2 separate regions of the Homo sapiens genome follow, and region 1 is linked to region 2. A link means that fine-mapping ties the variant in region 2 to the expression of a gene that starts in the linked region. Tissue or cell type: whole blood. Region 2 holds a variant in brackets; the other region holds the start of a gene. All regions are shown on one strand. Distances are between the middles of the regions.

Region 1 (8,088 bases), 28 kb after region 2:
CTAAAACTACTCTAAAAAATGAAGTCTGACTCTTTTTCAGCATGCATTAGTGCCCAAGTAAAAACCAAAGACCAATGTGCTTTGTATTTGGTATTAGGAGGAACTTAAGAATTTTATGTATTTGATGTTTTATAATCCATTGTAGTCATTAGTGCTTTTTCAATTTAAAATGCTATCATATATTCGGTGATTATATCTGTCCTTTATTTTATTGTTTAGATAAATGTTTTTGGTTTATTGGTTTTTGTTTGTTTGTTTGTTTGTTTGTTTGTTTTGAGATAGGGTCTTGCTCTGTTACCCAGGCTCAAGGGCAGTGGCACAGTCATGACTCACTGCAGCCTCAACCTCCTGGGCTCAAGCAATCCTCCCGCTTCAGCCTCCTGAGGAGCTGGGTGGGACTACAGGCATAAGCCACCATGCCCAGATCATTTTTTGATTTTTATTTTATTTTTAGACGGAGTCTCACTCTGTCACCTAGGCTGGAGTGCAATGGCATGGTCTCGGCTCACTGCAACCTCTGCCTCCCGGGCTCAAGCGATTCTCCGGCCTCATCCTCCTGAGTAGCTGGAACTACAGGTGCGTGCCACCCCACTCGGCTAATTTTTGTATTTTTAGTAGAGATTGGGTTCACTATGTTGGCCAGGCTGGTCTTGAACTCCTGACCTCATGATCCACCCGCCTCGGCCTCCCAAAGTGCTGGGATTACGGGTGTAAGCCAAAGGGCCTAGCCAATTTTTTAATTTTTTATAGAGACAGGATCAGGATCTCCCTATGTTGCTCAGGTCCTAAACTCCTGGGCTCAAGTGATCCTCCTGCCTTGGCCTCCCAAAGTGCTGGGATTACAGGTGTGAGCCCCTGTGGCTGGCCCTAACTTTTTTTAAAGTACCTTGGTGCCCTAGTAAAAACCAAATGTGCCTTGTTGCTAGCATTATTAAGAACACAAGAATTTCATGTATTTGATATTTTACAATCCATGTAATCATTAATGCTTTTTCAATTTAAAATGCTATCATATATTCTGTGATTATATTTTATTGTTTAGATAAACATTATTTTGTTTGCTTTTGAGATAGCCTGTCACTCAGGCTGAAGTGCAGTGGTGTGATCATAGCTCACTGCAGCCTCGACCTCACAGGCTTCAGCCATCCCCACACCTCAGCTTCCCAAGTAGCTGGGACCACAGGCAAATGCCACCACTCCCAGCTAATTTTTTAAATTTTTGGTAGAGACGGGGTCTCACTATGTTGCCCACGCTGAACTCCCAGGCTCAAGTGATCCCCGCACCTTGGCCCCTCAAAGTGCTGGGATTACAGACGCGAGTCACTGCTACTGGCCTTAGATAAACATTTTAATTAAAAAATAATTTTAAAAAATGTACCATGTGGGCTGTGCATGGTGGCTGACACCTGTAATCCCAGCACTTTGGGAGGCCGAGGTGGGTGGATCACTTGAGGTCAGGGGTTCAAGACCAGCCTGGCCAACATGATGAAACCCTGTCTCTACTAAAAATACAGAAAAAAAAAAAAATTAGCCAGGCGTGGTGGTGTGTGCCTATAATTCCAGCTACTCAGGAGGCTAAGGCAGGAGAATCGCTTGCACCTGGGAGGCAGAGGTTACAGTGAGCCAAGATTGCCCCCACTGCACTCCAGCCTGGGTGATGGAGTGAAACCCTGTCTCAAAAAAAAAAAAAAAAAAAAAAAAGTACCATGTGGTTGGTCAAGTGCAGTAGCTCACACCTGTAATCCCAGCCCCTTGGGAGGCTAAGGCAGGGGGATTGCTTGAGCCTAGGAGTTCGAGACCAGCCTGGACAACACAGTGAGACTCCATCTCTCTCTCTCTCTCTCTCTCTCTCTCTCTTTTTTAATGTACTATGTGGGCCTATGAGTCTGTGTGGGATTCAGTAAAACAGGCCAGTTGAGTGGGGCCAGACAAAGCCTGGGCTCCAGGGGTCCTCCTGGGGTTGGAGGAAGGGTGGCTAAAACCCTGCTGGCCTGGCTTGAGCAGCCTCTCAGTCTGACTTCTTTTCTCTCCCCAGCCCCCAGCCCCAGCCTCAGCTCCAGTGCCCAGGACCTGGTCAGGAGCTCAGCTTAGTCTTGTAGTGAACTGGTACACTGGCCCCTGAGCTGGCTGGGAGGCCCCCAGGAGCTCCCAGCCCCAGCCACATCCTTCCCAGGCCCCCCGGCCCAGCCCTGCCAGCTTTACCTATAAATAAAGCGGATGATGTAGTAGCAGAGCAGGAAGATTAAGAACTCGCCATATAGCAGCTTGTAGATGCTGCCCCGCCAGCACAGCAGCAGGCGGGAGAAGGAGCCTAAGCGGGCATTAGCCACTTGGCTTGTGTAAGTGATGGTCATGGCCAGGCAGTGGGCTGCAGCAGGTGGGCTTGGGTCCTGGTAGAGAGGGACACCGATTGGGGGTTTGTAGGGATCAGAGGCCCTGGTCAGAGCCTGTCAGGACCCTTCCCTGCTCTGGACCTCAACTCTCCCATAGGGACCCTAGGAGGTGGATGAAGTGGTCTCCAAGGCCCTGCCAGTTCTGACTGCCTTTTGGAAGTAGAAACGCAAGAAAGTGAGCCCAGAGGCTGCCCTTTGCTTTGGCAGGGAAGACGTAGATAGGCGTGTGCATTGCCATGTGCCTTTAACTTTCTATAATCACTGGGCGCAGTGGCTCATGCCTATAATCCCAGCACTTTGGGAAGTCGAGGCAGGTGGATCACCTAAGGTCAGGAGTTCGAGACCAGCCTGGCCAACATGGTGAAACCCTGTCTCTACTAAAAATACAAAAAAATTATCCAGGCGTGGTGCGGGTGCCTGTAATCCCAGCTACTCAGGAGGCTGAGGCAGGAGAATCGCTTGAACCCAGGAGGTGGAGGTTGCAGTGAGCTGAGATCACGCCATTGCACTCCAGCCTGGGTAAGAAGAGCAAAACTCTGTCTAAAAATAAATAAATAAATAAATAAATAATACAATGACAAAGGCAGTAACAGCAGCAATGTCTACACACTAAGCTCAGGTCCTCTGGGCTAGGCAGTGTTCTCAGCCCATCTTGTTCGTTAGCTCCCAAGCTCTCTCAACCACCCTAGTGTGAGAAGTATGGAAGGGACCAGGCAGCCCTGTCCACCACCATATTCCCATTCCCATAATGGAACCTAGCTGGTAGAGATGCTCAAATGATGTTTACTGAATGGTGGCTCCAGGGCCTTTCCACCTGCTGATCTTCCTGCCTGGAGGAAGCTCTTCCTGAGATACCTGCATGGTTCCTTCCCACTCCAGGTTCCCTTTAGAAAGGATGTTCCCAACCATCCAACCTGGAAATAGAGCCCCACTGCCACCGGTGCTCTGTGTCTCCTCACCTTGCTTGATATTTCTAGAGAGCACTTATCACTACTTGAAATTATACAGGATATCTGCCTGTTTCCTGCCTGTTTCCTCCTCAGAATGGAAGCTCCTCTTGTGTTCTCGTAGAAGGCGCTCAATAAAAATTTACTGAAGCAGTGATTGATGCCCCCTCCATTCTTTCCCTGTGTGTTTTGCTGCAGCCACACTGGCTGGCTGTGCCTGATGCACACCAAGCTCATTCCCACCTCAGGGCATTTGCACAGACACACAGGTGCCCACACACCTGCGCATGTGCTGCCTGTGTGTGCATATCCCACACAAATACGCAAGATGGCCATCCAACCCTGAAGGCCTCAAAGCCCCAGCCCAGTCCACCTGGGGCACCTTGTACTCACAGGTGGGGTTCCAGGTGGGTCCGATGATCCCACAGAAGGTCTGGCGACTAGGCTGGTGGGACTCCCTGGGACTCTGTGGCCAGTGCCCCTGCCCACTCTTAGAGGCTGGCACTGCCCACGTGAGTGCTGAGCCGCCGTCACTTGACTCCCTAAGCCAGGACCTCCACAAAGGAGTCCTTGTCTTAGTCCCTTCTTGTAATCTGCTCAGAAGCAACGGCTAGCACAGCCTGGCCATGGCCCCTCTAATTTCTTCTTGGAGGGTGTTGGGCTGAGACCAGGGCTGGAATTTAGGGCAACACCCCCTCTACCATGGCCCTAAAATCCAGAGGCTAAAGGATCTGCTCCACCAGTGTTCTGACCCCTGAGGCCTTGCAGAGAGAGTTGGGGGTTAGGGGGCTGTGCTGAGCTTCAACTTCTGTGCCAGGAACTCTCCAGGAAGGAGGAGCCTCTGACTAGGCCCTGGGGTCTTTGACAGCCCTGTGGGCTATGGAAAGAATGAATACCGGGCTGCAGTCAACAGTCCTGGTTTCTGGTCCCAGCCTTGCCACCTGTGTGTGGTGACCCCGGGTAGGTTTCAGCTCCTCTCTCAGCCTCAGTGCCCTTATCTGAAAAGGATGGTGTTGCTTGGGAATTTCATCACCCTAGTAAAATGACAGAATTCTGCATATGCTGACGAGGAGCTCTGATTGGCTGCTGGTGACATCATACGTTATTCTGGCTGTGATTGGCTGGCAGGGCCCATCAGTAAGTTGCTTCAGAGAGATGGAAGGAGAAGCCTGCCGGGGCTGGTGGAGGGGGGTGAGTCTGGTGGGGGTTGACAGAACAGCCCTGGAGTTTATGCTGCTGGCTTCCAGCCAGCCAGTGCAATATGGGAATAAATGCCCAGATCCCCACGGGCAGCTGGTGAAAATCTCAGCATGTGATTCAATAAATTTTAATACATCAATCCATACTCAAGGGCTCTCCTAAGCTGTTGGAAGTGGTGGGTGTCTACCTACACACTCCTCTTGTATTGTTCAATGAAGAGAGCAGAGCTCTAGGCAGCAGTGGTTCTTGGTCTTTAGAGGCCGTAAGAATCGCCCAAATGTTTATTAAACGGGCAGTTTTCTGGATCTTTCTCCAGAGTCTGAGTCTGTGGCCTTAGGGATGTTGCATTTTAATCAAGCACTGCAGGGGATTATGAGATGTGTGGTTTTGGGACTAAACTTCCAGAAGCCCTGATTTTATAATATGACCTTGTGTCTTAAACCCACTCTCATCCTCCCTTTCCTGTCACCCTCTCTCTCTGAAATGTACTAAGCGTTAACTATGCTGAGATTGCAGGTGATTTTTCTACACACCACTTTTTTTTTCACTTTAAGTTCTGGGATACGTGTGCAGAATGTACAGGTTTGTTACATAGGTATACATGATGTGCAGGTTTGTTACATAGGTATACGTGTGCCATGGTGGTTTGCTGCACCTGTCAACCCATCATCTAGGTTTTAAGCCTTGCGTGCATTAGGTATTTGTCCTAATGCTCTCCCTCCCCTTGTCCCCCACCCCCACACACCATTTTTGCCTTTATATAATTATCTGCCTAGAAAAAAAAACACTATTTCGCAATGACCTTGAATACTTTTCTAATCATGGCAAACAATAAAGCTGTTGTTATTATAAGACTCTCTTTAGAGGCAGCCTTGTAGGAGTATTTACTGCCTCCCCGCTGCCCCATCGCTGTCCTCAACTGATATGGGGAAAGAAGCAGGTTCACTTCAGCCTCAGTCTCCTCATATGCAAAATGGGACAACGATGCCTACCTTGGCAGCCGAATGAGAATGATGGATGGGACATGTGTCCGTCAACTCTCCAAACCACTGGTGCCTGTGCCTGACCCCTACGAATTCTGATTTGATTGGTCTGGATGGACCCCAGGTGTTGGGATTGTTCAAGTTCTCCAGGTGATTCTGATTTTATGGCCTGTGCTGAGTCATTGCTTAATGGATTATTTCCCTATCCTGTATTCCCTTCCCAACCAACACATCCTGAAACTCAAGAGCTTTCCATTTAGAAGATGATAAATATATATTATATATATTTATATATTAACATATGTAAATATGTATTAATATGTCTATAATATTACAAATATATTTGTATGTACACATATATTTATACATATAAATATATAAGTAAATATATAACTATATTTTTGAGACAAGGTCACCCAGGCTGGAGTGCAATGGGTGTGATTTTGGCTCATTGCAACCTCCACTTCCCAGGCTCAAGCAATCCTCCCATCTCAGCCTCCCAAGTCGCTGGGACTACAGACGCACACCACCACACCCAGCTATTTTTTTTTTTTTTATAGAGATAGGGTCTCACTACATTACCCAGGCTGGTATTGAGCTCTAAGTTCAAGCAGTCCTCCCACCTAGGCCTCCCAAAGTGGTGGGATTACAGGAGTGAGCCGCCACACTCGGCCAATAAGTATGTTTTAACTAAAGTTAACACACATGCCTGGCACCATGCCTGGAACATTGATGCTCATTCTGTACTCTCTGAAGGAATAAATGAAAATCCTGCCTTTGTGGAGACAAGTTCTTGCCTTCCCTGTGGTGGCCACTAGAGAGCGTGCTTGACTAGCTGGCTCTGGCTGGGGAAGCCTGGTTCACTGGTCAGGATCAGTGCAGACCACGGAGCTGGCACTGCTTCATCTCCCTGACCCCGACCAGCAGCCATAGAGCCATGAGAGGGAGTTGGAGACACTAGAGTCCCTCCTCCCTGTTCCCTGAACCGCAGGCTCCTTGGCAATATCCCAGGAGTACCACCAGGACCATAGACAGTGCATGGCCAGTCTCCCTTCCCCTCCCAGAGGCCCCAGCATGTCCCCAGAGACATCCCATGAGCAGCTGCTCCTGGCCCTGCCCCAGAGCTGAGACAGGCACACCCTGGCACAAGTCATGGTCTCTCCTACTGGGTCTCAGCTATGAAAATGTCCCCAGTTAGCCAGGCACGGCTCAGGCACACAGCAAAGTCATGAGTGCTGATTGACCCAAGCCATGCCTGGAACAAGAGTCCCAGGATTGACCCCTGCAGAGATGGCACCCAACCCAGTCAAGGTCGCCCTCTTCTGCTTTCCGTTCCGCAAAGAAAATATTCGCCAAACCATTTCTCCTTCCAGAACTGAGCCTAATCTGATTCCTGCCTGTACGTATTCATAGTCAAAAAATTTGGAAACACTTAAATAACAACTCTAACACAGAATGGCAAGGCCTAAGATCTGTGCCAAGTGCACAGAGGTCAGGGAAATTTTTACAGACAATGGGGCATTTCGGTTGGGTCTTGAAGCATGAGTAGGAGTTCATGGAGCTGAGAAGAATGGAAGAGCATTACACATCAGGGGAACAACCTACGGAAAGTCATAGAGCTATTCCTGAAGGATGATTCAGTATCGCATGTTTATCCACATTTTACAAAGGAGGACACTGAAGCTCAAGGCCTGCCTTGTCCAAGGTCACACAGCTATAAATGGCTTGAGACTAGGATCTAGGTCTTTTGATTTTGGATCCTGAGCCCTTTCCCACTATCAGCTCTACAGTAAAGGTCAGTTTCTGAGAGGTAGAGTCTTACCTGCTAGGGTAGTGGTCTCTCTTGGGGTTGAAGGGAGGTCCAAAGGATGGGGCCTGCATGAAAGATACTTTTTTTTTTTTTTTGAGACGGAGTCTCGCTTTGTTACCCAGGCTGGAGTGCAGTGGCATGATCTTGGCTCACTGCAACATCTGCCTCCTGGGTTCAAGTGATTTCCGGCTAAGTATTGTATTTTTAGTAGAGATGGGGTTTCACCATGTTGGCCAGGTTGGTCTTGAACTCCTGACCTCAAGTAATTCACCCGCCTCGGCCTCCCAAAGTGCTAGGATTGCAGGCATGAGCCACTGTGCCTGGCCGCATGGAAGAAACTTTGACTGCAGCAGATTCCAAGCTCTCGAGCTCCCCAGCAGAGAGCCATCTCTTGGGGCAGCAGGGCAGAGCTGGGGAGATGCGCGGGGGTGCCAGACACAGAATGCTATGGCCTTCTCATCTAGAATTACCATAGCAACAGGAGCATCACAGAGGGCCTGCCTCGGTGCCCTTCTAGGCCCTGCCTCAGCTGGGCAGGAAGAAGGAGACCCAGCTTGGCTGGGGGCAGTAGGCAGGGGGCCCCGGGGTAAGTCAGCCAGGCCTGGATGCTGCCTCCAGGCTTTATGTGGGACACCTGCCAGCCCACACCCCTCTCTTGGGCCAGTCACAGAACAAATAGGGCAGAGGCCAAGAAAGAAAAGGAGGGGGCTTGGCATAGCTGGACAGGGGTGCTGGGGGACACTGCCAGTCCAGGG
Region 2 (8,104 bases):
TCCCTATTATCTACATCCCACTTGTCCCTTTAGAAATGCAGTTATAACCTTTCACTTTCCCTTCACCAGACACTCCCTACAGGGCAAGTTTATCTAACTTCGTGCTTAGAAGCTCCAGGGTGGAACTCTGTCCCACCAGGGGACTGCCTTGAGAGACAACAGTCCATTTACAACCCAAAGCATGCCTGCTATGAAACTCTCTCCCACCTGGAGAGTTTTGGCCACCTTCACAACCCAGTTCTGTCCTCAAAGACGCCAACTCTCGGCCACCTGGTAGATAAGGCACCAAAGCAAGTACACAGCCCCCCACCTGCCTGCTTCCTCCCATGTGCCATTCATGTCTGTGTGCCAGGCACCCTTTAAAAGTACCCACCTTCCACGCCAAAAGTGAAGTGATACTCTTTTTTTTTTTTTTAGAAGGAGTCTTGCTGTGTTGCCCAGACTGAGTACAGTGGCATGATCTCAGCTCACAGCAACCTCTGCCTCCTGGGTTCAAGTGATTCTCCTGCCTCAGCCTCCTGGGTAGCTGGGATTATAGGCACCTGCCACCATGCCTGGCTAATTTTTGTATTTTTAGTAGAGATAGGGTTTCACCATGTTGGCCAGGCTGTCTCGAACTCCTGACCTCAGGTGATCTGCCTGCCTGTGCCTCCCAAAGTGCTGGGATTACAGGCATGAGCCACTGCGCCCAGCCCAAAGTGGTAGCCTTTTTTGTTTTTGCTTTGTTTTGCTTTGATTGTTTTTGAAACAGAGTTTTTCTCTTGTGGGCCAGGCTGGAGTGCAATGGCGTGATCTCAGCTCACCACAACCTCCGCCTCCTGGGTTCATGTGACTCTCCTGTCTCAGCCTCCCGAGTAGCTGGGATTACAGGCATGCGCCACTACGCCTGGTTAATTTTGTATTTTTAGTAGAGAAGGGGTTTCTCCATGTTGGTCAGGCTGGTCTTGAACTCCCGACCAAGATGATCCACCCGCCTTGGCCTCCCAAAGTGCTGGGATTACAGGCTTGAGCCACCTCGCCCAGCCCCAAGGTGGTACTCTTAAGGTAAGAAGCCTGTACCTCTTCCCCTAAGCTAGTTTTGAAATAAAAAGTCACTTTACTTATACCAGACCTCACTCTTATTATTTGGACTCTGCAAGTGGCAGGCAACTGAACCTGTGTTTTGGTTACAATGCTGCATGTGGAATGTGGGCATGTTTTAACGTGTTTGCCCTGATGTGCAGTGGGGCCTCCCAAATCTGAGTGCTGGGCTCCTAGAGGTCTTCACACAGATCCACATACAGCTCTGAAGTCTGAATGGTGCAGGCCTGAGTGTCCCAGCTGAGGTCACTGTACTCTGGTAAAATCAGACACCAGCAAGCGAGAGCAGAGAGCAATTGGTAAAAACTCTTCCTGTCTCCAGTGAGCCCTGGGGCCCAATGCCATTCAGAAGTGCTCATCAACTCCATTTCCTTAATTTGCTTAAACAACCATTAAGATTTAGACACTCCAAGAGGCAGTACTGGCTCAAGCAAGACCCAGTCAGACAAAGCTCAAGACCTTTTCACAATGCTTGTGAGATGCGGCAGGGCAGGGGGTCCTAACTTTACCCCTGGAAGAAGGAAGCCTGCAGCTCTGGAGGATGCTGGAAGACAGCCAGAGGATGAAGCCCGGTGGATGGGAGCGGATCTGAGAGAATCACAGAGAAACGGGGCCCGAGCCCTGATGGAACCACGTCTAAAGTCCACCTCGTCTGGGCTTTTCAACTCCACAAGTCAATAAATCCCCCTTGTTGCTTAATCTATTGTGGGTTGGGTTTTGTTGCTTGAAAGCAAAATCATCCCGACTGATGTGAGACCTCCCAGCTCTCTCCTCCATCCACCCAGGGCACCATCTCAGAAGCCATGTCTCTCCAGAGCGATTTTCCCTGGAGTATTTTTCACAGGGGTTGGTCTGGAGGCAACTGCACTCAGCCCTTCCATCCTAACACTGACAGTGATGACAGCCCATCTGAAATTCAGGACCTTTTCAGAAATATCCTCCTTCCCTGGGAACGGCAGAGAGTAAGGACATGCAAGAAGCCTGGCTCGGGTGGGATATCTGTGCCAAGGACTGATCACACAGCAAGACAGAGCTGCAGCATCCAGCATTTTTATTTATTTATTTTTTTGAGACGGAGTTTCACTCTTTTTGCCCAGGGTGCAGTGCAATGGTGCGATCTCAACTCACCGCAACCTCCGCCTCGTGGGTTCAAGCGATTCTCCTGCCTCAGCCTCCCGTGTAGCTGGGGTTACAGGTGCATGCCGCCACGTCTAATTTTGTATTTTTAGTAGAAACGGGGTTTCACCATGTTCGCCAGTCTAGTCTCAAACTCCTGACCTCAGGTGATCCGCCCGCCTCAGCCTCTCAAAGTGCTGGGATTACAGGCGCGAGCCACCGCGCCCAGCCCAGCATCCAGCATTTTTGTTGTTCCCCCTTATTCCCTCCATGCCTTGCTAGGGATAACCTGGTAAACAAACAGAAATCTCAAATTCAATAAGCACCCCCATTTGATAAGCATTTACTAAATCCCCATATGGGAGGCACCATGGGCAAACAGTGGAATGACAAGTGGATAACAGGATGGAGCCGAATGATCTGGGCAGTGGGTGGGGACAAGGAGCGGTTCAGAGTGTGGGCTCTGGACTGGAACAGCAGGTGTGTGTCCTTGGGCAAGGTACTTTGTAGTTCTGTGCTTCAGTTTCCTCATCTGTCGAATGACATGTTTGGCCTATGTAGTAAGGGGTCAAGAAGTATCTGCTTTTATTAATAAGTATTAGTTTTTATTCTTACTTGATTCATTTTTAAGAAAAGAGTCTGAGTCTAACCCACCCAGCTGGGTGGAGCTTGGGCCTGAGGACCCCTGCCCTTGGAATACAGGAGTTTTGGGCTAAAGAGCTGACCAAGCTGGTTGGGCTTAAGGCAAACTCCAGAGACCAGTTCCAACTCCCGAGGCTCCCATTCCAGGCTCTTAAGGGGAAACTGCAGGATGGGCCCTCCGTTACCTGGAGTTAAGTGCAAAGAACCATCTCTCACGGGGCAGTACTGGCTCAAGCGAGACCCAGTCAGACAAAGCTCAAGACCTTTTCACAACGCTTGTGAGATGGGGCAGGGCAGGGGGTCCTAACTTTACCCCCCGTTTCGCCCCCCAGCAGGGCAAGGATTCCCCTTTCTCACGATGATTCAATCACATCCAACCAGAGTCTTAGCTGAGGCCCTGCCAGGTGCCAGGGCCTGGTCCCATTCCTGGGAGCAGAGATGAAGACCAGCTTCCTACAAGCCTCCTATGATGCCTTCCTACGAGCCTCCCCTATGATGATGCAATGGCACAGGGCCTCCTGTCACTCAGTAAAGGCCGAAGGAATAAACATTAGCAGGAATAAGAGACAAGCTCTGAATCCAGGAAGACTTCTCGGCAGAGGCAGGATCTGGACTGCAGCTTGGAGAAAGGGTGGATCTTTGATAGATAAAAGTGAACAGCTAGGGGAGGAAAGACTTCAACAAAGGACAGAGGCGGGGGACCAGGGGTGCGGTGGGGCACCCCAGGGGCTGGTGTGGATGAAGCAGAGGACTGTTGGGGCCCAGAGGAGGGACACCAGAGGACAAGCCCTCAGGCAGCCCCACGAGCCTGTTTTGCCCCCCGCCAGAGAGCTGAGGCTGGCACACAGGGGTGGGAGAAGTTCCTTTGTCCTTCTCCTCTTTCTCTGCAACCCTGCCCAGGAAACCAATGATAGCTGCTTGGCACAGAGTTCCCTGTGTTTTTTCATAATCACATAACCGTACTTGAGCACTGCCAGAAGAATTTAATCTCAGGAAGCAGAGAAGCATGAGGAAAGAAGGCTGGTGTGGGAGTCAGAAGGCCTAGGTTTTGGTCCTTGGCTCAGCCACCGACTTTCCCTGTAACCCTGATCTGGTCACCCCAAATCCCCAGCCCCAGATATCATTTTCTTCATCTAACCCAAGGACTGGCATAGAGCTGGCATTTAAAAATGTTTGAAGCCAAGTGCAGTGGCTCAGGCCTGTAATCCCAAGCTTTGGGGAGGCTGAGGCAGGAGGATCTTTGGAGGTCAGGAGTTTGGGACCAGCCTGGGCAATATAGTGAGACCCCATCAAAAATTGCT[C/T]TAATTAGCCAGGTGTAGTGGCATGCACCTGTAATCCCAGCTACTCAGGAGGCTGAGGTGGGAGGACTACTTGAGCCCAGGAGTTGGTGGCTGCAGTGAGCTACGATCGTGCTACTGCACTCCAGCCTCGGTGACAGAGTTGAGACCCTGTCTCTATTTTTAAAAAAATAATAACAAAATAAAAACATTAGTTGAGTGATTGAAAGTATTAGATAGTCTCAAAGGCTCCTTCCTGTCTTGAAAATTCTGAGACCCATGCAGGAATCAGTTGCCATTTAGATGATGTAAAACAGTGGTCCCCAGCCTTTTTGACACCAGGCACCGGTTTTGTGGAAGACAATTTTTTCCATGGACAAGGGGTGGGGGAGGGAGATGGTTTCAGGATGAAACTGTTCCACCTCAGATCATCAGGCATTAGTTAGGTTCTCATAAGGAGCGCACAACCTAGATCCCTGTCACGTGCAGTTCACCGTAGGGTTCACACTCCTATGAGAAGCTAATGCCACTGCTGATCTGACAGGAGGCAGAGCTGGGATAACCAGCAGGCAGAGCTTGGAGGTAATGTTCATTCACCCACTGCTCACCTCCTGCCATGCAGCCTGGAGGTGCACAGTCTATGCACCTTCGGTACCAGTCTATGGACCAGGGGTTGGGGACCCCTGATATAAAAGGTAAGTTGACTGAAAAATCTGTTGCAAGTAAAACAAAACATGTCTATCCCTGAATCTAGGGATGGAGGCAGTTCCAATTATAGCACATCACAGAGGTTGGAGGGAGGGAAATAGTTCCCCAGAGGAAAATCTGGATCTAGTGTCCAGAAGACAGGTGGATATTGGGGAGTAGGTATGGATCTGGAGAAATCAATTCCAGAAAAAAGCAAAAAGCAAAACATCCGGATTCCTGCCACTACACATACACACCCCTGTCCACCCACATACACACCCACGATATTGAAAGGGCAGCTGGATAGGTGAGTAAATAGTGGGGAAAAACGAGAGCCACTTGGTTCCAACTAATGCTTTCAAAGAATTACAAAAGGCAGGGATGTTTGACAGGGGGTTAGCATATCATCCGTGCAGCTGGAAACAGATGAGAAAGGTAATAGCATGTAAAGCCCCTTCCCATGGGAAGGCTCTCCTGGCTCTGACTCAGGCCAACTGGCTTCTGAGCCATCAGAAGCTTTGTCAGAAAGGTGGGTGAGCCCTCCGCACAGAAAACCAAGGGTGGGCTAAGGCCCCAGGGGAGGAGCTGGTGTTGCCCCAGTTTGGAGGTGGGTCATCCTATGCTTCCCGGCATGTGAACAGCTTCAGCTCCAGAGGCCCCGAGACTCTTTTAGGCAAGTTTATATGGTTCTCAGATCCTACATACGAAGGAGGTACCATGAGACCCTCAGGGAAGCATCTCCCACCACTCCCTAATATGGTGTGTCTTGTGGCTGAGCAGAGGCCCCCAGCCCCTGGGAGGACCAGCCAAGCACAGTGGGAGTAATGGGGGTCTGAGGAGCCAGCCATGGTCCCTGGGAATTACATGCTCCAGAAATACCCTTAGCTCTCCCATGTGGGCCGAGACCCACTGCCCTGCTCAGAATGCCACTGGATAGCCCCAGTCTACGGGCTGCCCAGGCATCTCCTGGGCCTGCCAGCCATTAGCACCAAGTCCAGATAACTCAAGACCAAGTCCAATTCGCTAAGCCCTGCCACGAGATCCCCAAGAGTGCCATCCAAAGAACCACAAAACTCCCACCAAGCAAACAGACTTCAGTTACTAATCAAATCAGCCCATTAATTTCAAAGATCACCCGTGACAGCTTTGCTGCTGGTAGAATCACAGCAACTACTTTGAAAGCACCCTCGGCCAACTCCAGTGGCTTGAAGCCCACCGAAGTTGGGTGCTGGCTCGCCTTCAGGATTCAGGGCTGCAGGAAGTGCTCTCCACCTGCAGGGATATTTCAGAAGCCTCAGCAAGTGGAATCTTGGAGCTCTTCTTCCTGCATGCTTCGAGATTAAGGGTAATGTATGTGCTGAGTTTAAGAATTGCCGTCATGGCTGTGTCAGGGCACCAGATTCAGAAAATTGCACCACAATCAGAGTCCAGATTCTGGTCAGAGCCCTGTCTCTTACCAGCTGCGCAATCTTAGGCAAGGCCGTCTCTTAACCTCTCTGACTTCCAGTTTCCTCACTGGATAAAGGAAACCTCTGCTGCCAGCACGGGCTACCTGCCCTACCTACTCAGAGGTGCTGTCAGTGTCAGCCCCGAAGGTGTCAACTTACTTTATGTAAAAATCTGTTATTTTATGGAATGAAAACTCCAACAATGCACTGGCCCACCGCCAGGAAGGATAGGACATTGTTTTGTAGTAGCAAGCTGATTTTTATACCAACCCTTCTTGCTTTCCTCCCACATTGGTCCCTAGTGACAGCCCACAGATTCCTCCAGTTGAGGAAACACTCTGTGGCCACAAAAGCAAGCCACAGGAATTGGTCCTCAGAGCCACAGAGCCTGTGACTGTGACATCTCCATCCCCATGGCCGCGCTGGTCCCAGCCCCGACTGCCTCACAGTGTCTTCAGGTCTCTGCCTAGGAATAATCCTGAAACCCCAGAAAGACTCACCAATTCCCAGCATCTTCCATACGGGAGGTAGAAACAGCTGGTAGTCTTAATTAAGTAAAGATGGAAAAACCAAACCTGGCCGGGCCCAGTGGCTCACGCCAGCATTTTGGGAGGCTGAGGTGGGCGGATTGTTTGAGGCCGCACTTCGAGACCAGCATGAGCAAAATGGCAAAACCCTGTTCTACTAAAAATACAACAATTCGCTGGGCATGGTGGTGCATGCCTGTAATCCCAGTTACTCAGGAGGCTGAGGTAGGAGAATCACTTGAACCCGGGAGGCAGAGGTTGTAGTGAGCTGAGATGGCCCCACTGCACTCCAGCCTAGGTAACACAGCAAGACTGTCAAAAAAACAAAAAACCTATGAGGCACGGGGTAGTGGTGGGGCAGCCTAACGCTCAGCAACAGGAAAGATGAATAAGAGTTGGGCTAAGAGCTAAGTCCAAGTTAAATCCAGCCCATATTTGTCGGTAGTCTGGGAGCCTGTGAAACTGTGAGTACTTTGCCAGGTGCTGAGGTGGGAAAGGCAAAGGCATGGCCAAGATAAACAGGGCAGAGGTTCCCTTGCTGTGGGGGAGGTGGGTATGGAGCAGGTCACTGTAATACTGCGTGGCAGTGGAGACCACGCGCTCGGAGTGCTGGAGGGCACAAAGAATGGAAATTCTCAGCTCTGCGGGGCAGTGCAGGGAGCTTTGGGAGCATATTTGAGCCCGGTGTTGAAGGCTGGGTACTTTTTCATGCAGAAGAGTGAGGGGCAGGCCGTCTGGGCAGATCAAACAGCTGTGCCAAGTCCCAAGGTGTGAGGGGAACCCTGGAGGGCTAGAGAGAAGCCTGGGGGTGAGTGGCTGGGCCATACCCTGGAATTACAATTATATCCCAAGGGCAGTGGAGAGCACTTAAGGAGTTTTATTTTATTTTTTATTTTTTTTAGAGACAAGGTTTGGCTCTGTCGCCCAGGCTGGAGTGCAGTGGCACAATCATTGCTGACTGCAGCTTCGAATTCCTGGGCTCAAGCAATCCTCCTCCCTCAGCCTCCTGAATAGCTGGGACTACAGGCCTGTGCCATCATACCCGGCTAATTTTTGTGTTTTTTTTTTTTTGGAGAGAGAGGGACTTGCTATGTCACCCAGGCTGGTCTCAAACTCCTGGGCTCAAGCAATCCTCTTCCCTCAGCCTCCTGAATAGCTGGGACTACAGGCCTGTGCCATCATACCCGGCTAATTTTTGTGTTTTTTTTTGGAGAGAGAGGGACTTGCTATGTCACCCAGGCTGGTCTCAAACTCCTGGGCTCAAGCAATCCTCCTCCCTCAGCCTCCTGAATAGCTGGGACTACAGGCCTGTGCCATCATACCTGGC

The links. PIP is the estimated chance that this variant, and not a neighbour inherited with it, causes the effect.
Region 1: it holds the start of BEST1, and the variant in region 2 is fine-mapped to the expression of BEST1 in whole blood (TOPMed, PIP above 0.99).

What each region holds. Positions count from the first base shown.
Region 1 is chr11:61,946,073-61,954,160 of GRCh38, reverse strand. BEST1 (bestrophin 1) reads right to left here and starts at 3,810. Exons shown (of 11, transcript NM_004183.4): 1 at 3,734-3,810; 2 at 2,203-2,390. The coding sequence starts at 2,354. It overlaps LOC107984334 (a long non-coding RNA gene), which reads left to right. Exons shown (of 2, transcript XR_001748245.2): 2 at 1-242. It also overlaps a transcript of RAB3IL1 not described here. RefSeq lists a silencer at 7,949-8,088.
Region 2 is chr11:61,974,517-61,982,620 of GRCh38, reverse strand. No RefSeq gene overlaps it. Among named protein-coding and RNA genes, the nearest start is that of FTH1, 11 kb to the right of the region's middle. RefSeq lists a silencer at 4,024-4,240. The variant C/T (reference allele first, on the strand shown) is at 4,140.